Linked DNA regions of Homo sapiens: region 1 is linked to region 2. The links come from fine-mapping of genetic effects on plasma protein levels. Region 2 holds a variant in brackets. A gene starts in the other region. All regions are shown on their reverse strands.

Region 1 (12,284 bases), not on the chromosome of region 2:
TACAAATTCTCTCAGCATTTGTTTGTCTGAAAATGACTTTATCTCTCTTTCATTTCATTTTATCTCTCTTTCATTTAGTTTTGCTGGATACAACATTCTTGACTGACAGTTACTCTGTTTAAGGCAGCTAAAGATAGAGTCCCAATTCCTTTGGGCTTATAAGGTTTCTGTTGAGAAGTCTGCTGTTAGTCTGATAGGTTTTCCTTTATAGGTGACCTGATGCTTTTTGTCTGACTGCTCTTAGATTTCTTTTCTACATGTTGACTTTAGATGGCCTGACGACTATGCCTTCGTGGTGATCTTTTTGCAATGAGTTTCTCAGGAGTTCTTTGAGCTTCCCAGATTTGGGTATCTAAATCTCCAGCAAGGCCAGGGAAGTTTTCCTCAATTATTCCTTCAAATAAGTTTTCCAAACTTTTTGTTTTCTCTTCTTCCCTCAGGAACACCAATTATTCTTAGGTTTGGCTGTTTTACATACTATCATATTTCTTGGAGACTTCATTTACTTGATTCTTTTTTCTTCATTTTTGTCTGATTGGCTTAATTTGAAAGCCTCGTCTTTGAATTCTGAAATTCTTTCTTCTACTTGTTCTAGTCTATCGTTAATACTTTCCACTGCATTTTGTAATTCCCTAAATGTGCCTTTCATTTCCAGACGTTCCTTTTTTATGATATTTAGCTCTCTAGAAAATTTTTCATTTATAATCTGAATTTTTTAAAAAAATTCTTTATGTTGGTTTTCACCTTTCTCTGGTATCTCCTTGAGTAGCTCTTATACAACATTCTGAATTTTTCATTTGGTATTTCTAAGATTTTATCTTAGTTTGGCTTCATTGCTTGAGAGCTAATGTGATCTTTTGGGAGGTGTTATAGAACCCCATTTTATCATATTAACAGAATTACTTTTCCGGTTCTTCCTCATCTGGGTAGACTATTTCTTCTAATTATTCTTAAATTTATTTTTGATTTGACTGTGTGATTTTATTTCTTATTTTCCTTCTTAAGAATTTGACTTTAATGTTTATAGTTTGTTATAGCCTAATTTGGTTCTTGGTGCTTTTAGGGGTGAAAATTCTGTATGATTTCCTTGGTTATAGAGAAACTTTGTATGATGGCTTTCTCAGATGCTAGACATAGTAGTAATGTGCTGAATGTGTGAGCAAACTTACTGTCTCTGGAAGCTTATCTCATTCCAATGTGGTATGCACTTTTAAATTTATTTACTTTGCTCCAGTATTTTATTCACTGGGTTGATGGTTCAGGCTTCAGGCCAGTAGTGGAGGTGTTCCTAGGTAGGAACCAGTTGTGGCTAAAGAAGGTGGGTAAATGCAATACCCAATGGTGGGCAGAGGTCTCAGCCTTGACAAAAGGGGCTGGGGGAGCTGTCAGGGAGACACACTGAAGTCTTATCAGGGGAAGGGTGGTAGCCACCTTAGCTCCCCTGTCAGGTCAGCTGGGAAGCTATCCATCTCCCAGACTCACATCTGTCCCAATATTCTGGCTATTCAGATCAGACAGGCCTCTCTTTTCATCTGCTGGAATGTTAGTGCTCCAAGTAGAGAACTGTGACTCTGCCTCTTATGTAAGCCTGAAACTGGAGGGTTGCTTCCCCTGTGGGGTTGCGGTCACCCTGAAGTGTTCTACAAAGTCTGTCTATGGGTGCACCCATGCTGAGCTCTTGTGGGAGAAGACCCAGCTGTGTCTGCAGTGGTGGACGAGGTTGGTAAGAAGTCCCCTTCTCCAAGATCCTTGATAAGCACCAGGGCTGTCTGACTGTTGGGACAGCTGTAGACATTCCCTGCTGAGCCCAGCACTTCAATTCTGCCTCTATTGAAAGAAACTTCCCACCAGTGGAACAATCTAATCCTTAAGACCTGCCATCTGGATTCTTTATTCACACAGGGTGTTCCCTTGATGTGGCACACTCTCCCTTTCCTTAGGAGTAGAAGTTCCTGAGAGACAGACTACTATGAGTGCTGCTGCTCCTCAGGGTCTAGCCACTCAGTGGCTCCAGACTAGTGCTGGGGGATGTCTGCTAAGGATCCAGTGATATGACCTGTCCTCCAGTTTTCCAGCAGCTGTTATCAGCACCAGGTCTGATGGGGGTGCCAGAGGCGTGACATAGACCTGTGAGATTCCTTGATTATAGATAACTTTAGTGTGTTGTCTTTCTTGAATGCTAGTTCAGGTAGTAATAAACTGGTCATGTGGATAGACTCAGGACCTCCTGGTTAGACAGGGTAGTGCAGGAAGTGGTAATAGCTGAGGTCACACAGTAGTTTTGTCCTTCTTGAGTGCAGTGTTATTCCACCTACAGATGCTGCAATGGACTGTGTTGGTAGGCTTCCAGCTACTGGGTGGCATTTGCAAAAGAGTATCAGGTGTGGTAGTAGCAGTGGGATTTGTGCTTGCCTTATGTTGCCCAGGGTAGGTAGTCTGGCTTCTCAGGTGATGGATGGGGCTATAAATCTCCCCAGGGTTTCTGTCCTTTGTATTAAGCTACCACGGTGGGTGGAGGGGCAAAGCCAGATGAGGGCTGTGTTAGGTGGGTCTGCACTCTGAGTCACCATGTGCATGGCAAGCAGCGGCCCCTTTTGGAGATGTGGTTGCACAGGGAGTGGGGAGTAGTAGGCAGCAGTAAGCCTAACCCAGATGTCACACAGTTGGCAAGGCAGATCTGGCTCCTGCAGTACTCTGCTAGCAGCAGTGAGCTAAGTTCCAGGCAGTCTGCACTCAGAGCTCACAACTGCCTGAGGCCATAAACTTTTCCCGTGGTGATAGCAACTGCTGGCGTTCAGGCCATGCCCCTCTCTGTCCACCCACACAGCTGGCACCCAGATCCTGCACTCACGGCTGCAACACATTTCCCACTCACCTTTCTGGTTCTGGCCAAGGGAGTTCATTTCACTTGAGGTTATATTGTGAATTTCAGTTGGGAGTTTTTACAATGTGCAACCCCTGGCTGAGCTAGTTGGCTGAGTTCCGTGAGGTTGTCTGTGAGGCATAAGGAATAGTTTCCCTTGGCTCATGCTGGAGACTGGGAATGCACACAAGCCTCTTCCTGCTGCTGCTCTTACTTTTATATTCATCACTGCTCTTTTAATTGGTTCCAGTGCTGGGACGGGTTAAGGCCTTCCCCCATGGCATGGACTTTCAGGTTCCCCTGTGGGGGTATGTATCCTGGAGCCAGTCTCTTCACCTCACACACCCTGGGAGCTTACAGTTTTTCACCTAGCTCATGGTGTAGGTATAACCTGCTGCTTCTTTCAAAGAGTCTGTGGATTCTTTCAGTTTTCCTGTTCAGTTCCTGTGTTGCTTCTTGGGAAAAGAGTTCACAGTGAGAAGGTTTTTTTTTTTTTTTTTTTTTTTCAGATGGAGTCTCGCTCTGTTGCCCAGGCTGGAGTGCAGTGGTGTGATCTTGGCTCACTGCAACCTCCGCCTCCCGGATTCAAGTGATTCTCCTACCTCAGCCTCCCCAGTAGCTGGTATTATAGGCACCCGCCACCACGCCCGGCTAATTTTCATATTTTCAGTAGAAACGGGGTTTTGCCATGTTGGTCAGGCTGGTCTCGAACTCCTGACCTCAGGTGATCCACCCACCTCAGCCTCCCAAAGTGCTGGGATTAAAGGCGTGACCACCATGGCTGGCCCACAGTGAGAATTTTTTACTCACTATTTTGTCCTTCCAAGTGGTAGAGTCATGCTAACACTGCCTCCAATCTGCCATCTAAAAAAAAAAAAATTCCAATTTTTAAAAAATTTAGAATAATTTGATGAACAACAAACAGCTTGAAACACATGTGAATCCACAATGTGCACTTCCTCATAGATCTTTTATATGGTCTGGCTACCCCAACTGGAGCATTCTGACACTCCTTTATATTTAGCATGCTTGATTTTGCCCACCTATCACCTAACATCTGGAAAAGTTTTGGTAGAGTAATATAAGTCTATTGTACAGATTCAGGAAGAACTTTTAGACATTATCTAAAACAATCTTCTTGTCTTTCAGTTTAGGAAATGTAGATGCAAATTGTTAATTGTCCTCCCAAAGGCACAAGGTTGTTACTGATACCTGTCTTGTTATGGTTTGAATGTGTTTCCTGCAGAATTCAGGTGTTGCCAGTGTGGTAGTATTGAGAGAGGTGGGGCCTTTAAGAGATGATTAGTCCTTGAAGTCTTCTCTCTTGAGGATGGTATTAAGGCCTTTATAAAAGACGCTACATGTAGCATTTGGCTGGCTTGACCTTCTGCTTTCTGCCACGTGAGAATACCCTTCCTCCTCTACAGAGAGTGCAGCTCTCACCTGACATCCAAACCTGCCAGTGCCTTGATCTTAGATTTCCCACCTTCTGGAATGCTGAGAAATACATTTCTATTGCTTATAATTTATCTGGTCTCAGGTATCCTGTTGTAGGTCAGCACAAACAGACTAAGATGGGAATATAATTCTAATGTACTGATTCAGGAAGAATTTTTTCACATTACCTAAAACATTTTCTTCTCAGTTTAGGAGATTTAGGCACAAATGAACTGGCTTCCCCAAACCACATGGTGGTTAGTAATAGTTTTAAAAGTTTTTACTTCCAGTAAATTGTATAATTCCTCGTGATCATAATGTACCAAATGTGCTATAAAATGTTGAATCAAGTTCAGATACTATAAGAAAGACCACTACTCTGTTCTTGGAGAAAGGAAGGGGCTAGGTCCTATAATCTCTTCTCTTTTCACAAAGACACAGAGAGGTTAAACTAAGTGACTCCCTAAAGGATGGGTAAGAAACAGGGATGTGTGTCCTTCCAAGTTATTATTATTCTGCAGACTCTGAAGGAACCACAGTGCTACACCGTGCTATTGTAAGTTCTTGCCTTCTTTACAGTGAAGTTACATGAGAAATGCAAACAGGTAAACAAAAAAGACCTGAGAAAGGCCAACTTTTTGACAACTGTTTAGACTGAGACGGCCTAAACAGAAAACACATGCTATTTCCCCTCAGCCTGACTGATTTGGCATTCAGAGTACAAGCTCACAGGAGAGGGGCTGGGCCTGTCCAGTCAGGAATTGCAGTCAGAGACTTTCCCTGCCCCTCGCTGGGAAAGAACATTAGGAATGCCTTTTAGTGCCTTGCTTCCTGAACTAGCTCACAGTAGCCCGGCGGCCCAGGGCAATCCGACCACATTTCACTCTCACCGCTGTAGGAATCCAGATGCAGGCCAAGTACAGCAGCACGAGGGACATGCTGGATGATGATGGGGACACCACCATGAGCCTGCATTCTCAAGGCTCTGCCACAACTCGGCATCCAGAGCCCCGGCGCACAGGTACCCTGTCTCCTGGAGTCCAAATAGACCACAGTCCTTGTGAAATGTGTGAGATGATCTATCCCTCCTAGAAATGGAGATATTTAGCTTGCATCTTATAATTTTATTTCCAATTACTCGCCCTGTGACATAGTAGTGATTTTTTTTTTTCAGTTATATTCAGTTCCATAATTCCCACACTTAGAGAAGGATTTTATTTCCTGGGCCACTCAGCCAATCTAAAGCTAAAATATGACTTCAGTTCTAGTGAAAAGGACTCACATGGTAATATACACAGGACTAGGTTCTAGGTCCTAAACCAGGTATGCCACTTTCCTTCTGTGTAACTTTGGATGAGTTGTTTAAGTATCCTGGTAGCATCATATTCTTTATTTATAAAATATTAACGGCCACAAACATGTATAAAGGGCTCATTATGTGCTGGCAGTGTTTTAAATACTTTAAGTATATTAATTCATATTAACTTGACTTAATATTAAATAGAAGTAATAAAACTTCCTTTACAAGGTGGTTGTGAGTACTGAGAATGATAAATTATGTAAAATATTTGAATGTCTGTCTGATCTGATATAGACTGACACAAAATTGCTGAAAGGAACACTTTAGGTTCTTAAGAAATGGAATGTTGAAAGGAATCCCACATTTTAACATTCATTCAGTGCCTGTGTTTTAATATGCCCTTTCCCTTCTGATTATATCATTGTTTTCTTCACCTTTGTAAATCTGGATATACCTTTAAAAAAAAAAAACTATCCTGTTCCTTATTTCTTTATCAAATAACTTTTAGTTTTCCTTCCTTTCTCCTACTAAACCCTCCATTCACTTTCTATTTATTTCTATTTATTAAATGACCCTCCACCTGAAACCTACTAATATGGCTTTTTTTTTTTTTAACTAAACTACCCAGTAAGCTGTTAAGGGACATTGGGGATTTCCAACCTCTTTGAAATGAAGCTAAGTGACAAAAGTAGGGATGTCAGCTTTTGTAGCCACAGGATATGTGTAATAGGATACAAAGCGTTTTCCTCCAAAAAAACTTACGAAGAGTCCATTTTTACGGCTGTGGTTTTGAGTAGCTTGTATATAACTTCATTTTCCACCTTTGACTGGAGCCAGGAACTCTGTCAAGGACTAGAGATCAGCATAATTAAGAACAGCATGTACAAATAAGTTCTGCTGAGGTTGAAGGGTGGAGAGGGAGGTGGAGCAAGATAAAACACTAGCTGCAACATCTGGGAGCTTCTTTGTAAGAAATGGATATTGAAACAGTAGAAGTGGAGATTACAAAGAATTGTCTTGGAAGAAATCATCTGGAAATAGTTATCTTAGGCAACATATATGAGATCTTGTTTTCATCTTTTTATGGTAATACAAACATTTAGGGGAATACCATCATAGAAGTATAATTATTTCTTAGATAAACATATCTGATATACCTTCGCTGATAAAAATAACAGCAGAAATCACTCAGAAATTTTCGGCAATGTGGAGGATTCAGATTCAACATAATGATGTGATACCATTAAGAGCTGGCAACTTTTATTTTTTAGAATTAATAAAAATAAATCACACACACATTCATTTAATTTCTAGACTTTTGTCAATAACAATTGACGTAACAACTATGTTTGTGTTTAAAAATGCCAAACAATTAAGATAGTAAAAATGCCAAACAATTAAGATAGTGAAAATGAAAAACAACAACCTCATACATTTTTCACAAACTTATGTTTGGGGTCATGTTATCCTAGTACTGAGGATATAATGTCCAATGTGATATGGTCCCTGTTCATAAGGAAATTGAAAGTCTAATACAATTCTCAACTAAGGAGTAAGTATAATAAGGTGTTATGGCAGAAGCATGTACAGTACAGCCGAGAGCTTAACCAAGCTCTCGGCTTAATTTTTACCTAATTAAGTAGAGGAGTTCAGGAAAGGCTTAACAGAAGGAGCAACTGTGGAGTTGAGTTAATTTTAACATCTTCCACATAATAAGGAATCGGGAGTGAGGGTGTTTGAGAGGCTGGGGACACTATAGACAGAGAGACGTATGAAGGGAAAGTCATGAAGGTTTTCAGTAGCTTTGTATTTTTAGAGAACTATAAGCAATATGTATGGCGTAGGTGTAGAGTTGGAGGAGGGAAACTTAGCAAAGGGGTAAGTCTGGCAAGTTAAGGAGGGATTTTAGGGCATGCTGATCTAGTTTAATTCTATTCAATAGTTAAAATGAAGTCAATGCAGGATTTAGATAGGGAGAAACAAAATTTTGCATTTTGGAAAGACCTTCCTGGCTGCAATGGAAATGATAAGTTGAAGGTATATGAAACTGCATGTGCTGATACCAAATTTTTCCACTAGTCCAGTACAAGGGTAGAAAAACCTGAACTGAGGCAGTATAGTAAAAATAAGGAAAAAGAATCAGATATGAAAGATGTCGAGGTGTTGGAGTTTAGATAATCGGTGATTGGTTACATGTGAGGAGACAAGGAAAGGGACTTCGGTGGTAGGTTGACTAGGTTCTGTTTGATGTAATGTAGATGGTGCTGATGTTAACTGAGACAGAAACTATAGAAGGGACAGGAAAGATGATGAATTGAGTTTGAGTTTAAGGGGTCTGCAGAAGGAGGGACATGCATTTGGAGCTGTCCAAAGACACCCGTATATGCAGGATGTGGGTTGGGCTACATAGACATGTGGGAATTACTGGCATAGTAATTAAATAAATAAAGTAAATGAGGTACCTAAGTCATTAAGTCAAATAAATGGCTAGTAACTAAAATGTATGAGAGTGAGTGAGATCACTGAGGGAAGGAATGTAAAATGAAAACATGAATGAACAGAAGAGAGTGTCAAGGAGATAATCTGAGGGAATATCAACACCTGAGGAGCAAGAAGAATGAAAGATTCCAAAAGGAGCTACCAGGGATGAATAGCAGAGAGTGGTAGAAGCAGGAGTCTTGGAGAGAGACAACAAGGGCATCAAGAGACAATAAATTCAAGAGTAATGGAAAATTAGAGTAATGGAAGGACAATAAATTCAAGAGTTTTAGAAAAGTCAATGATAATGACTGTGAGTTTTAAAAACAACAAATAACAAATACTGCAGAGAGTTTAAGCGAAAGGAAGACTAAAATGATTATTTAACAATTTATCAATAAGGAGGAAAATATTTAGTTTTGACAGCAGTGGTTTGAAAAGGAACTGATGGTTACATAATAAAATAAACAATTTAAGTCATTTTCTCTTTTTCTTTCTCTCTTTTTTTTTGAAGATAAAATGGGTTATTGCTGAGGTATTACAGCATTGGGTGACAGATTTTAAGAATGATTTTTTAAGATGTGGGAAATTCTAACTCAATTGTAGATTGAAAATAAGTTCAGGGAGAGAACTTCACATTAACAGTACAGTAAGAGGAGAGAGGATGAAATAACTGACAGGCTGAGATTCCTGCCAGAGACTAAATTTTATCCTATCAAAAGAATATGAAAAATTACTTTGGTTAAATAATTTTAAAAAATTTAATAATAAATTCAAGTTCCTCTTTTCCCTTGTTCACATTAATTACAGTACTATTGAATTTCCCAGCGTTTTAGTTTTATTTCCTCAATTACAGCATAAATCCCTCATCACAGTCATGACATAAATCGCTGTTAACTGATTCAACAACTCTTTAAATCAAACCTACTAATGACAAGACATTATGGGATGTACTAGAGGAGCCTCTTTTTCAGGTGCTTAGAGAAGTGGAAGGAATACTCTAAATCAATAGTTGTAGTAAATGTCATTTAGTGCTATTAAATCAATGTTGGAGGCCGCAGAAGCAATATAGGAATGAATGAGTTACTGATTGAGTTTAGTTTTGCGAGTTCCCAGAGGAAGTGACATGATCTGGACCCATGAGGCTAAGAAGTAAAATGGGATCCTATTAGGAGGAGCCTGATACAGTACACTAAGAAACTGACTAAAACAGAAAGAGCCTTGGGAAACTTCTTCCTATGGAAGAGAGGAAGTATGATTAAATTTATGCTTTCAGAATTCATCTTGCTGGCAGAGTGGACATTTCATAATGTAGAAGGGAAAAGTTGCAAGCTGCTGTCATTCTATGATTCCAGATGCACTGCCATGTATAAATATTGATCTGAGATGTGTTGGGAGGATAGGAAGATGATTGAAAATGTCCAGCTCTGGAATCAGTCAGCTTGGGTAGCTCTGTGCAACTTAGTGACTTAGGCAACTTAAGTGACTCCTTGGTAATTCAATTTTTGTAAAGGTTGCTTCCAGTGAAATAATGTGTATCTAGAACACACTTATGGTTACTATTAATAACTATTTCTCTCTCTCTCTTTTTCAATACTCTCCATCCAATCATTCTATATAAAGACATGGAGAAACACAATCCTGGGGAGTTACTAATAGTTCATTAGTAACTATTGCTAATAGTAGCTGTGTGTTCCTGAATAAGCTGTCTAAACCTGCTAGGCCTCAGTTCCCTACCTGTAAAATGAGATAATAATATCTACCTTATAGGGGGTGTTTGTGAGGCTAGATGAGAACATTCATATAAGACATTTTTCTCAGTAACTCAAGAAATTTGAGCAATTATCATTAATGGTAATGTTGTTTTTGAATTATATTTCAGTAAATAATATCTGTTGATGGGGATATAAAATTGAGTCACCTAACTTTTACTGAAGATGAAAAATATAATTAAATTTCTAAATACTGTGAATTAGAACCTCAATGATATTCTAGAAATAGCTCATATGTTTTTAGATGTATACTCTTTTCAAATAATAGGAAGGATAACACAGATTTTCATTTAGAGAGTATGAAAATAGCAATATTTGAAATAGATTCATAAGAGAAAAGAAACCTGCATTTACATGAACACAGAAAAGCAGACTCAACCCGTGAACTCAGATTCCCATGAGGAAGTTTCCTATGTGCCATATGTGAGGATTAAGGAAACAAAGACGTTTACATTTCAAAATACAAAGGGATGAAAAAGTGCTTTCTGAAATATTATGTACATTGCCACCAGTTTTGCCCCCATGTCTCTGTGATTCCTGACTGGCTCATGGAAAAGTGTGCAGAGTATAGCGTTAAACATAATTTAATCCTAGCTCTGCAACTAGTTTGTAACATGCACATTATTTAAACTCTCGGTGTCTTCTCCAGCTTTTAAGACCTTTTGCATTTCATAGGTATACTAATAGACTGTATATGGTAATGTCAGCTTAGTTTCTTGGGTGGAAAACAAAATTTTCCCTCTCTGATGCCTGATGAAGGGTAACTGGTTAAGTCTGACAACTCTCCACCCACAAAGTTTCATATAATTACACAGTAATTGGTATCCAAAATTTGACCCTAGCACTAAGGCCTTTTATAGTATGGTTAATACTAAGAGGATACAGGAAAGGTTTTTTTTTTTTTTCTATATATATCTTATTATTCCTAGGGATGTTTATATCATTCCTTGGCCTGTCCACACCCCTTTCTAAACATGCCTCAGGAGACAGCAAAGGGGTTCTCTTCCAAAAAATAAAACCACAATAAAGCCAAACCAAACTCAAGCGACCTCCTAGGCATCTTATTTTTGTGAAAATCTGTCTCATGTTAGGGTGAGGGTGATCCCTGGAGAGAGACTTCAGTATGATTAGGAGCACTTGGAATAAAACTGAGAAACATTAGACTCACAGTTAGAAGAAAAACATCTAGAAGGAAAAATAGTATCAAAGAAAAAGAAAAAGTGAAACTTTCAGTTTCATGGACTTTCCGTCATGGGAGCTTGGTTTCCTGGAAGATGAACTCCCTAGGATTGTGTTTCTCCATGTCTTTTATATAGAATGATTGGAAGGAGAATTTTGAAAAAGAGAGAGAGAGAAAGCGAGAGAGCAAGAGGGAGATGGGAAGAGAGAAGAAAAATTTCAAAATATGAAAATTTGATCAGAGAAAGAGGATTTCTTAGAAGAGATTTTTAAAAACTTTTTAAAGCCTGTTATACTTCTTTTATTTTTTCTGCCCTAGAGGCAATCTTAGGAAGGATCATGTATTTTTTTTCTTTTCATGAATATAATTATTATTGAAAGATGTTCTGATTTCTAAAGTCCAGGCCCTCACTTCACAGTAGGAATTTAAATTCACTCTTTTTGGTCCTTTGGGCAGAAAACAACAACTCCTATGTCCTCAATATTATGCGAGAGAAAGCAGATTTATTTTATTTTATCTTATTTTATTTCATTTCATTTCATTACTACTTTTGAGAGAAGATCTTGCTCTGTCACCCAGGCTGGAGTAGAGTGGCACGATCACGACTCACTGCAGCCTTGACCTCCCTGGCTCAAGCAATCCTCCCACCTCAGCCTTCTGAGTAGCTGCGACTACAGGTGTGTGCCACCATGGCTGATGAATTTTAAAAATTTTTTATAGAGATGGGGGTCTCACTATGTTGCTATCTTTTGTAGAGATGGGATCTCACTATGTTGCTCAGGCTGGTCTCGAACTCCTGGCCCAAAGCAATCCTCCTGCTTCAGTTGGGAGGATTCCAAAGTGATGAGATTACAGGCCTAAGCCACCGTGCCTGGCGGAAAACAGATTTATAAAGAGATAAATAAGTTGGTTGACTGTCATAGTTCTTCTCCTTTACTTCTTATTTTTAATTTCAGCCAGACAAATATTAATTATAAGAGGTCACAGGATTTAAAAAATTATTATGACTTTGAGATGCATATTAATGTAACTGTGTTTGAGTAAGGGTAGGCAGGCATATAACACAGGTATTTGTATATAATGGACCTATTCATTCATTTATTTAAATTTAATTGAGCTTATTTCAACTACTGCCCTAGGAATTGGGTTGCAATAATGGATAAATAAATATTTTCCAAGAAGGAGCTTAATTTTTCCTGGAGTAAGACACATATAAGCTAAATGAAATAACAAAGATATACAATATATTTAATG
Region 2 (11,859 bases):
AGCCCTAGAGTATGGCTGCCCAAGGCCAAGGTGGGTGCGGGGCTGCAGCAACATTAGTAAACGTGTGAGTCCACAGATTTCCTAGAGAGGCCTCCCGCAGAGGAATCTCATGTCTTCATTCAATTCCTATCCCTCTGAGTGCCAAGACTTACTTCAGTAGGACCCAGCCACAAACCTAATGATGAAGCACCTTTGAGGGTCCCCAGGCTGGCATGGGATGTATGTTGTGGCGGGGAGAGTTGGGGTGAAGGATGCCGGGTGAAGGCAAACATGGATTCAGTTCCACTGAGTGTGGCAACAGCTATGTCAGAGCCAAAGTTCATTGGGGCCCCAACCCAGCCCTGGACGCAGGCACATTTCCAAAAAGGGACATCCAAGTTGAATGTCTATTTCCAGTAAATATACTACTCGAAGCATCTCCCAACATCTCAAACAGGAAACTGTCTCCCTGTTTTTCCCCATTCCCTGCCATCTGAGCAGGCAGCTTGCTTCTCTTTCACCAATATGCCCCCAATCCTGGAGCAGTGCCCAGCACTTCAAGGGCACTCGGTGTATACTGTGGAATGAGTGATTCCGTGGCCCATTTGCGTTCCTACCTTATGGGTCAAGTCTTTATTTGTATGAATAAATACTTTCAGAAAGTATTCTTTTTTTTTTTTTTCTCGGAGATGGAGTTTCGCCATTTTGCTCTTGTTGCCCAGGCTGGAGTGCAATGGCTCGATCTTGGCTCACCACAACCTCCCCTGCTGGTTTCAAGCAATTCTCTTGCCTCAGCCTCCCGAGTCGCTGGGATTACAGGTATGTGCTACCACGCCTGGCTAATTTTGTATTTTTAGGAGAGATGGGGTTTCTCCACGTTGGTCAGGCTGGTCTCGAACTCCCTACCTCAGGTGATCCGCCCACCTCGGCCTCCCACAGTGCTGGGATTACAAGCATGAGCCACCGCGCCTGGCCTTCCAGAGCGCCTTTCAACAGTGAACAGCAGCTGCTGTTTAGGGAGCACCAGCTGGACCCTGATTCTTACGCTAAACACTGGGCATTGTCTACTTCACACAGTCCCTGTACTAGCTCTCAGGACCCTCACTCTGCCCCCTTTTTACTGATGAGGAGAGTGAGGTTCCACTGGGCCATCTGCCCAAACTGGTTTGGGAGAGAGCCTGGGTTTGGACTCACATTAGTTTGACTCCAAAGTCCACATTCTTTGTTATGTGTGTTTTTTGCTTCCTCTACCTCCATGATTCTTTTTCTCTTGACCTCTGGTTTCTTCCTCACGTGGCTTTTCCTTCCATGTTCCCCACTTCTCGTCTCCCTTGCTTCTCCCTGCCCTGCCCATCACGACTCATTTCTGTTTCATTTTTCAGCGGATCCTCCTCAGTATGGTTGAAAATGGTGTCTTACTGAAAGTAACATTGAAATGGGGAAACTTCTTTTAGGTTCTGAGCCTTCAGTTCCAGGCCACTGTGGGACCCCAGAGGCTGTCCTGTCCACTTGCCTTCTGAGGACATCAGCTCGGTGTCCCCAGCCTCCGTGCTGTGGGCACAGCAGTGGTTTGGGTGCTGAGCAAAGGATGCTGTAGTCTTGGCCCTGTGGAGCTTGGCTGTTGGGACAGGAGGTACAAAGGGGAGTGGTGCCTGAGGACACAGGACTGGACCCTGGGGTGTCAGAGCCTCAGGCTCATGGTCTTATCACCCTGTATGGTGTACGCAGCTGCACATACGGAATAGATGGAACAACTCAGGCCCAACTTTTCTGCCACGGGAGGAGTGCTGCTTCCCTCACGTAACAAGAGGCTGTCAATCATGAGCCCCCAGGTCTGGGTGAGGCCGGCCCTTCGTGGCTTGTGCCACTGAGTGGGCTGTGCCTCGGGCTTGGCTCCACCTCAGGGCTCCACATTTGCAAGATGTCAACTGATTTCCAGGGACCAGCCTCACCCTTACGTGTTGTCTCCTTCTTCTGGGTCTCCCAGGTGAGCACCCTGAGGACACGTCCATGGAGACACCCAGCCCCTCTGGCCTGGGCCCCAAGCCCTCTGCATCACCCCAGCCCTTCCCTGCCCTGCCCTGTCCTGGCCCAGGCAACCGCCTCTTGCCTAGTTGCCCACAGCAGCCTTCACTCAGGCCTTCCTGCCTCCAGCCTGGTCCCCACAACGTGCCTCCCCCGATGGCCATGGTAATACTGGAATAAGGTCCTTGTGATAGGCACCACATGCCTGAACTCTCCCCACCCCATCCACCTTGTATTTGTCTGTTCTCACATTGCTATAAAGAACTACCTGAGACTGGGTAGTTTATGAAAAAAAGAGGTTTAATTGACTCACAGTTCCGCAGGCTTCAGAGGAAGCATGGCTGGGAGGCCTCAGGAAACTTACAATCATGGTGGAAGGCAAAGAGGAAGCAAGTCCCTTCTTCACAAGACAGCAGGAGAGACAGAGCGAAGGGGGAGGTGCTACACACTTTTAAACAATGAGACCTTGTGAGAAACAGCACCTGGGAGGTGGGGCTAAACCATTAGAAACCAGCCCCGTGATACAATCACCTCCCAGCAGGACCCGCCTCCAACACATGGGGCTGAAAATTCCATGTGAGATTCGGGTGGGGACAGAGCCAAACAATATCACACCTCCACTCCTGTTTAGGGTCTTCTGCCTCAAGGTTACTCAAATGCATCCTCTCATTTCCTTGCTTGCAGCAGAAACAGAAAAGGATTTTTTTTTATGACTAGTTGAAGTTTTATTACAATCTTGCTATTAGGAGAAAGGCCTTACAGTAGTCTCAGTTTAGAAATTCACATTTGTTTGCTTGTATTGTTTTAAATGGACACATAATGTACATATTTATGGGGAACTGTGTGATAATGTTCCCAACACAAAGAAATGGTAAATGTTTGAGGTGGTGGAAATGACCCCGATTTGATCATCACACATTGTACACAGAACAGCAGGTTGTATTATGCTCCTCATCTTTCTAGATTGGTTCAGATGCCCCTTCTAGGAAGCCTTCCCAGATTTTCGCCCTGCAGAAGAAAATGTCTTCCCACAGTGCTGGGCTCCCACAGCACTCGGTGCCTGTCATCCTCCATCCTGGCACGTGTGGGGCTCTTCCCACCAGGGACAGCGTCTTATCCAGTGCCCAGCCAGGGTTGAACTCAGGGCAGGCTTCAGAATGAATGAATGAACAAATGACTAACAGCTTAGCTGTTCCAAACACAGAAGCTTTATTGATGCAAGTGAGGGAAAAAGCTGAGGTACACATGTCGGGTTGGAGGGGCAGGATGGCCCCCAAGTCTCTGTCCTGATCCAAGGCTGTGTCCTGCTAGGATTCCCCCTCCTCCTGTTTCCTCTCCTTCTCGTGCTGCTTCTCCAGTGGCTCACACTTATCCTAGAAGGCAGCGGGGAATTGGGGTGAGGGAGAAGCAGAGGCATGGGGACAGGGTGGGAGGTCTTCCAGGGAGAGGGCAGAATGAGCTCTGGCCTGTGGAACCAGCTCAACCAGGGCTCCAACCCTGGCACTGTCACTTCCCAGCTGGGTGATCTTGGGCAAGTCATTTTCTGTCTCTGAACCTCAGCTTACTTGCCTCTACAATGGGAGCTCAGACTCTTAAGAATCACTGGCATTTACTGTGCACTTAGGACCTGCCGAGCCCTTATGCTGCAGCTCCTGAATTCCTCACAACCACCACTACTATGCAGATGATGTAACTGAGGAGCAGGGTGGCCTTGGGACCCATTCGAGGCTCCCTAGCCAGACAGTGGGGGTGCCAGGCTGTGGATCAGGTGAGCTGACTACAGTGGTTGTGTTCATAAGCCCTGTCCCAGGATCCTGGGACTGCAGATGGGGGCAGGAGGTAGTTCACACCACTGGTGGTCATCTCAGATGGCAAATGGAAGGAATTGTTTTTCTTTGAATAGTCATGGAAGTACTGCATGTATATATTTTAAAAATTGGAACCAGCTCATCGGTGCTGTGATTTCACAGGTATTGGGCACAGGGCCACACCAACGCAAGTCTTCCAAACACAGGTTTAAAGAAAAGTGTTAAGGAGCTCATTATAAAGTAATTTTCATTTGTAGCAAAAATCGGGATGGTGACTGTGGCCGTGCTGCAGTGTGGGTGACATTGAAAACCACAGTATCAATTCCCCACTGCACGGGTATTAAAAATGAGTGGGGAGTGGAGGTGGGGTGAAAGCCTGGGGTTTGGGACGCGTCTGTAGGTGGTAACTCCCCGCATTACGTCCCCTCCAATTGCCAATCCCCCAACCCCGTGGCTCACGCTGTTCCCTCCTGTTAGCTTTCAGGTCCTCCCTGGTTTCACAGGGACTTCTCCCTCCTGGGCTCTCATCCACCACCCCTGGGCCTCTGTAGAGCTCAGCTGTCCCTACAGTGAGGCAGGTGCCTAAAAGCAGAAGATCTGCCTAGCTGTGCAGCCTTGCCTGGCAGCTCTCCTGCTCTGGGCCTCTGGGGCTGCCCAAGTTGGGCCATGGACAAGGTGGGCACTGTCCAATCCCTTGCGTTTACCTTTTTCCAATCGGTGTACA[C/T]GACATCTGACTTGGGAATGCGCAAGCAGTCGAGAGCTTCGTAGAACTCTCCCAGTTGCTCCTTGGTCGTCTCTGGCTTGTCAGCTGCAGGGGGAGCAAGGAGACTGACTGGGGACATGGTGGGGCCCGGCGGGAGGCCAGGGAGGGCTGGGGTTCTAGGGGCCAGCCCAGGGGTGGGTGAATGGGGGGTGAGGCCTGAGAGGGGCATGAGTTTGGGGCTGCTAAGCATGCCTACCATAGACAGACAGCCCCCAGTTCTTCTCATCGTTCACGTCAAAAGCAAGCATGTAGGTCTTGGTGTCCCTGAGGATCAGCAAGTGAGCGAAATGCTCTTGGCCTCCCACTGGAAGAGAAAAGGAGCCTCTGGGTGAGAACATGGGATGGCACAATGGTGTCTGTCTTACAGGTGAGGAGGCCTAGGTGTGTCAGTGGCCACACAGCCCATCAGTGAAGGCCCAGGGCTCCTTTGGGCCACCGTGTGCCCAGCCCCTGCTGCATGCCCAGCTCCACGCCAAGCACTTTCTGTACATGAGATCTCAGGAGCCTCACACAGACCGTGGCTGTCAGGGCCTTTCTCCGTTTTACAGATGAGGAAAATGAGGCCCAGAGAGGAGGCTCGGGATGCTAAATGGTGTCAGTTCAGCTCCATCAGCTCCCTGCCATGTGCCACCTCTGCGGTGATGGGGGACATAGTTGAAGGTACCACCTCTCCAACATACAGGCTTCTACCATTGGTTTGCAAAGGATCTTAAAGAGGGCATGAGAGAGAGGCAGATCTGAAGCCAGCCTGGAGTTCCAATTCTAGTTCTAATTATAAGCTGTGTGACCTTGGGGAAACTATTTGAGGTCTCTGTTCTTCTTTTTCCTCCTCTAATTCTCTCAGTGTCCTCTTAGAGTTGTTTCTGAGCACATCGTTAGAGCTCAAAAATGTTAGTGGTTATTTCTCTGTGCCCAAAGCCTCCAGGGCTCTACATCCAGCCCCCACCTTATGCTGGCCTGCCCTGTTCCCACAGTGAACCCTCCTGCCTGAGGGCTGGCCCTCACCGTATCTGGAGATGGTCCCATTTTCCCGCTGGACATTCAGGTAGGTGGTGTTATAGATGCACTGGTCCTGTCTAAAGCCAAACAGAAGGCGGAAGGAAAACAGGAAGATTATTGAGAAGTGGCCAATCGCCCATCACAGTCCTGGGGCAAGAGTCTGGTGGAGATTAAAGCCAGCCCTCCCGGTTCCACCCATGGGAAGGCCAAGGCCAGGAAGAAGGAGGGACTTGCTCAGGTCTTCTGGCCAGAAGCTGAGATGGGGGTGCATTGGAATGGGGGCTCTCACCGGGTCTGGTACTCTCTGAGAAAGATCGTGTCCTCTGTCTTGTTGGGGGTGAAGTAAAAGAAGGTTGCTTGGATCTCCTGAACCGACTTATTGTACTCCTCGTTTCGAAAGGCCGATGCGATATAAAACCACTTGCCAGTGATCTGGGGAGAAGGTGGGAGCTGGTGATGGGGGCTTGATGCTGAATCTTTGACTGTCAGCTGGGAGGAGACTCAGGCAGATCTCTCCCTGATTTTGCAGATGGGGAGATGAGGCCCCTGGTGGGCAGTGCGCATGCAGGAGCTCACCCTGAGGATCAGTCATTGCCCCCCAGGCAGCCCCTCCAGGCCCAGCACAGAACCGTCCTCCGTGAAGGACTCTGCAGTGAGGCTTCTGTGTTTGGAGGCAGGGGGTGCCTCCAGAGTCCCCTGGGCTGGTGAGAATTTCACCCTGGGGACCCAGAAGAGAAAAAGGCAGAGCCGGGAGTGGGGGTCCGACCACAGCCAGCAGGGAAAGGGAAGCCCAGAGAAGGGAGGCAGCTGCCCATGTGCTCAGGACAGGGCTAGCCCAGGCACTCACCCGGTCCAGGGTGGCGTTGGTGATGGGCACCGGTACTAGGTTGGCACACAATGGGATCTGGGCTTCCAGCAGAGGTAGGAGGCTCAGGACTGTAAGAACCCAGGACAGCGCCATACTGAGACCAGGAGGCACGTGGAGCCAGGCAGTGCTGGTGGCTGCAGGGTGCAGTCACCTTTATAATAAACTATGGGCGGTCACTTGGAGCCCAGCAAAAGTTTACTCTGTGTCTGTGACACAATCCTGCCAGCACTTGGGAAATGCCTCGCACAAAACCTCCCCCAAAGGCCAGCTCGGAGCACCGCCTCCAAACCCAGGTCTAATTTGAGTTCCTCACATGGAGAGGTTACAAAAGCCCTAGAGTATGGCTGCCCAAGGCCAAGGTGGGTGCGGGGCTGCAGCAACATTAGTAAACGTGTGAGTCCACAGATTTCCTAGAGAGGCCTCCCGCAGAGGAATCTCATGTCTTCATTCAATTCCTATCCCTCTGAGTGCCAAGACTTACTTCAGTGGGACCCAGCCACAAACCTAATGATGAAGCCACCTTTGAGGGTCCCCAGGCTGGCATGGGATGTATGTTGTGGCGGGGAGAGTTGGGGTGAAGGATGCCGGGGAAGACAAACATAGATTCAGTTCCACTGAGTGTGGCAACAGCTGTGTCAGAGCCAAAGTTCATTGGGGCCCCAACCCAGCCCTGGACGCAGGCACATTTCCAAAAAGGGACATCCAAGTTGAATGTCTATTTCCAGTAAATATACTACTCGAAGCATCTCCCAACATCTCAAACAGGAAACTGTCTCCCTGTTTTCCCCCATTCCCTGCCATCTGAGCAGGCAGCTTGCTTCTCTTTCACCAATACGCCCCCAATCCTGGAGCAGTGCCCAGCACTTCAAGGGCACTCGGTATATTCTGTGGAATGAGTGATTCCGTGGCCCATTTGTGTTCCTACCTCACGGGTCAAGTCTTTATTTGTATGAATAAATACTTTCAGAAAGTATTCATTTTTTTTTTTTTTTGATACGGAGTTTCACTCCCGTCCCCCAGGCTGGAGTGCAATGGCTCAATCTCGGCTCACTGCAACCTGTGCCTCCTGGGTTCAAGCGATTCTCCTGCCTCAGCCTCCTGAGTCGCTGGGATTACTGGTGCCCTCCACAACGCCCAGCTAATTTTTTTTGTTGTTGTTATTTTCAGTAGAGATGGGGTTTCTCCATGTTGGCCAGGCTGGTCTGGAACTCCCGACCTCAGGTGACTCACCCGTCTCGGCCTCCCAAAGTGCTGGGATTACTCAGAAAGTATTCTTACGGTATGATTATAATTTTGCATTCTTATTCATTTCATTCTGAATAACTTTCATATTTCAGTGTAGTTTGTAGTTAAAAGCTTAATGGACCCAAGATGGGAGAGTCACCTGAGTCCTGGAGTTCAAGACTAGCCTGGGCAACATAGTGAGACCCTATCTTTACACAAAAATATTTAAAAATTAGCCAGGTCGGCCAGGCGCGGTGGCTCACGCCTGTAATCCCAGCACTTTGGGAGGCTGAGGCGGGCGGATCATGAGGTCAAGAGATGGAGACCATCCTGGCTAACATGGTGAAACCCCATCTCTACTAAAAATACAAAAACAAAATTAGCTGGGCGTGGTGGCAGGCGCCTGTAGTCCCAGCTACTTGGGAGGCTGAGATGGGAGAATGGCGTGAACCTGGGAGGCAGAGCTTGCAGTGAGCTGAGATGGCGCCACTGCACTCCAGCCTGGGTGACAGAGTGAGACTCCGTCTCAAGGAAAACAAACAAACAAACAAAAAAATTAGCCAGGTCTGGTGCCATGTACCTGAAAGCCTAGCTACTCTGGACTCTGAGGCTGGAAGATTGCTTGAGCCCAGGAGTTCAAAGCTGCAGTAAGCTGTGATTTTGCCACTACACTCCAGCCTGTATGATGGAGCAAGAGACCCTGTCTCAAAAATAAATAAATAAATAAATAAATAAAAGTGTAATGGATGCACAACTTTTCATTCACTTACTCTATTCTTTTTTTGTTTTTGTTTTTGTTCTGAAATGGCATCTCACTCTGTCGCCCAGGCTGGAGTGTAGTGGTGGGATCTTGGCTCACTGCAACCTCTGCCACCCAGGCTCAAGAGATCCTCCCAGCTCAGCCTCCCGAGTAGCTAGGACCACAGGTGCGTGCCACCACACCTGGCTAACTTTTTGTACTTTTGTAGAGATGGGGGTCTCATCATGTTGCCCAGGTTGGTCTCGAACTCCTGAGCTTAAGCAATCTGCCCACCTCGGCCTCCCAGAGTACTGGGATTACAGGCATGAGCCACGGCGCCTGGCCCGCTTACTATATTCTAACCTACTTAGTCATGTCCTTTATGTCTACAGCACTTTTTTTTTTTTTTCAGGCTCTTCAAGTTGGAGTGCAGTGGTATGAATCATAGCTCAACTGCAGCCTCAAACTCCTGGGCTCAAGCAATCCTCCCACCTCAGCCTCTGGAGTAGCTAGGACTACAGGCATGCACCACCACACTTGGCTAATTAAATTTAAAAAACAAAAAATTGTAGAGACAGAGTCTCACTATGTTGCCCAGACTGGTCTTGAACTTCTGGCCTCAAGTGATCCTCCTGCCTCAGCCTCCCAAAGTGCTGGATTATAGGCGTGAGCCACCACTCCCAGCCTATCTAACAGCATTTCATATTGTGATTTTTCCTCTGATGATAAGTGTCAGAGAGCAGCCAATTTCCCTTTTAAAATTACCTTAGTATCCAAGGGAAAGGAAACCACGTGCTATGCACAAAGTCTTACATATTAATGTTCATAACAGCATTGCTCAAAATAGCCAAAATTAGAAATAATCCAAGGGTGGGGCACCACGGCTCACGCCTGTAATCCCAGCACTTTGGGAGGCCGAGGTGGGCGGATCACAAGGTCAAGAGATCGAGACAAGCCTGGCCAACATGGAGAAACTCCGTCTCTACTAAAAATACAAAAATTAGCTGAGTGTGGTGGCATGCGCCTGTAGTACCAGCTACTCAGGAGGCTGAGGCAGGAGAATCGCTCAAACCTGGGAGGTGGAGCTTGCAGTTAGCCGAGATCGTGCCACTGCACTCCAGCCTGGTGACAGAGCAAGACTGTCTAAAAAACAAAAACAAAAGCAAAAACAAAAACCAAAAAAAAAGAAAGAAACAATCCAAATGCCCATCAACAGGAAAATGGTAAATAAAAATGTGGCATTTTCTTACAAAGGAATATTACTTAACAATAAAAATAGTTAAACTATTGATACATATAACACCATGGATGAATCTCAAAAACACTATGCTGAACAAAAGAAGCCAGATACAAAGGAGCTTATATACTGTACGGTTCTGTTCTAGAACAGCTCAAACAAATCTATAATTTTAGAAATCAGATCAGTGGTTGCCAAGGGCAAAAGAGGGCAATTTGACTGCAAAAGCATATGAGAGAACACTGAAGTGGATGACAACGATCCAGGTTGTCATCGTGGTGGCCATTATACACACACACGTATAGTTGTAAAAACTAATTGAACAGTAAACCTAAAATGTGTGCATTTTCTTTTATTTATTCAACCTCAAGAAAGCCGATGATTTAAAAACCCTCCTCCCAAACATGACAAATCCAAAAGCACTAAGGATTTTGAATGTCAGTTTGGCAGTGTACAAGTGAGTCTCCTTATCCCCATCCTTGTCAGAACAGAAATGACCCTTTTTTTTTCCTTTCTTTTTTGTGTTTTTGCCAGCTTGGTTTGTTTCTTGAATTTGCATTGCTCTAATTTGAGGCTTGAAACAATGATTGGAGTTATCAAGAGGGAAGAGCGCAGGTGAGAGAGTGGGTGTATCAGGGAGCTGGAAAGTCTGTGCAGCTGGAGCACATGATAAGTGGGAGTGGCCAGACTTTATGTTGAAGAGGTTGGCAGGAGATGGAGCCTGCAGGGCATGGAAGCCAGGCTGAGGGGTTCGCTAGACTTAGGAGGTGTAGGAGAGAAATGGAAAGATTTCAAAGGGGTTGGAAAGGCATAACCAGATTGGTTCTTCAGAAAGATCGCTCTGTCTGAATGGGAAGAATGGGGAGGGCTAGGGAAGGAGATTAAACCTGAGAAACCAGCTGGAGCTGATGCAGTGGTCCAGGGGTGAGATGATGGGGACAGACTCCAGATACCATTCATCTATCTAACATCTATCTATCTATCATCTATCTACCTATCTATCTATCTATCTATCTATCTATCATCTATCTACCTACCTATCATCTATCATCTATCTCTATCTATCTATCTATCTATCTATCTATCTAATCTATCTATCATCTATCTATCATCTATCTATCTATCTATCTATCTATCTATCTATCTATCATCTATCTATCTATCTATCTGAGACAAGGTTTCACTCTGTCGCCCAGGCTGGAGTGCAGTGGCACGATCTCAGTTCACTGCAGCCTCCGCCTCCCGAGTTCCAGCAATTCTCCTATCCAGCCTCCCTAGTAGCTGGGATTACAGGTGTCACTACCACACCTGGCTAATTTCTTTTGTATTTTTGGTACGGACAGGGTTTCGCCATGTTGGCCAGGCTGATCTTGAACTCCTGACCTCAAGTGATCCACCCGCCTCGGCCTTCCAAAGTGCTGGGATTTCAGGTGTAAGCCACCGTGCCCAGCCCAGATACCATGTATTTTGAGGAGAAGCTGAGCATTGTTGGGGACAGCACCACCATTAGACCTGGACTATTGGGGCCCAGGGATTTAGAGAGCCCCACATATCACACCCACCCACACACCCACCCACACACAACAGTTTATTAAATAACAGATAAGCACCTCTGTCCTTTGGGATCTGGTGCCTGGTACTGGCACAGTGGGACCCACATCACTGATTATTCTCTTTCACAACCAACACTGTTTAGGCCCCAGGAAACAATCTCTACATGTGGCACTCGACTCTGAAAACAACAGGTCAAATGTCCTGATACTTCGTGGATGATGCCACCGCAGACATAGGAGACAGACACTGCTTCAAGAGAGGATTTGAGTGAACTTGGAGGTAAGAAAAAAGACAAATTAACATTTTAACTCTTCCCTTTCAGCATAAATGCCAACAAAAAAACTCTTTGTTTTGCCAGAAACACTGAAAGTCTATTTTCTTGCAATGTGTGGTTAGAGAGATCCTCCTGAGTTAGAAATAAACAGTACATGCAACAGTTGCACATGGTTGCTGAGAAACATTTGGCAATATTGCATCATTATTACTCCTAAATGTGTGTGTCTGATGTCTGTAGATGGTGCCCACATACAGCCTGAATCTAGTTCTTTTTCTCTTTATTTTCTTGAGACAGAGTCTGGCTCTGTCACCCAGGTTGGAGTGCAGTGGCACAATCTTGGCTTACTGCAACCTCCATCTCCCAGGTTCAAGAAATTCTCCGGCCTC

Direction of the effects. Alleles are on the strand shown, and positions count from the first base shown. The strength of an association depends on the size of the effect and on how common the allele is.
For the plasma level of the protein whose gene starts at base 5,144 in region 1, allele C in region 2 goes with a higher level than allele T (weak association).

What was found. PIP is the posterior inclusion probability: the model's chance that the variant is causal. Protein levels are from antibody-based Olink assays in UK Biobank. Linkage for the fine-mapping came from a reference panel and not from the study's own genotypes, which makes the PIPs less certain.
Region 1: CLEC1A starts here. The variant in region 2 is fine-mapped to the plasma level of the CLEC1A protein (UK Biobank, PIP above 0.99).

The regions. Positions count from the first base shown.
Region 1 is chr12:10,091,845-10,104,128 of GRCh38, reverse strand. CLEC1A (C-type lectin domain family 1 member A) reads left to right here and starts at 5,144. Exons shown (of 6, transcript NM_016511.4): 1 at 5,144-5,321. The coding sequence starts at 5,207.
Region 2 is chr9:114,317,810-114,329,668 of GRCh38, reverse strand. ORM1 (orosomucoid 1) reads right to left here and starts at 6,571. Exons shown (of 6, transcript NM_000607.4): 1 at 6,422-6,571; 2 at 5,864-6,006; 3 at 5,581-5,651; 4 at 4,772-4,879; 5 at 4,517-4,620; 6 at 3,190-3,377. The coding sequence starts at 6,535. The coding sequence ends at 3,312. It overlaps LOC105376224 (a long non-coding RNA gene), which reads left to right and starts at 11,226. Exons shown (of 3, transcript XR_930255.3): 1 at 11,226-11,475. RefSeq lists an enhancer at 11,506-11,800. The variant C/T (reference allele first, on the strand shown) is at 4,537.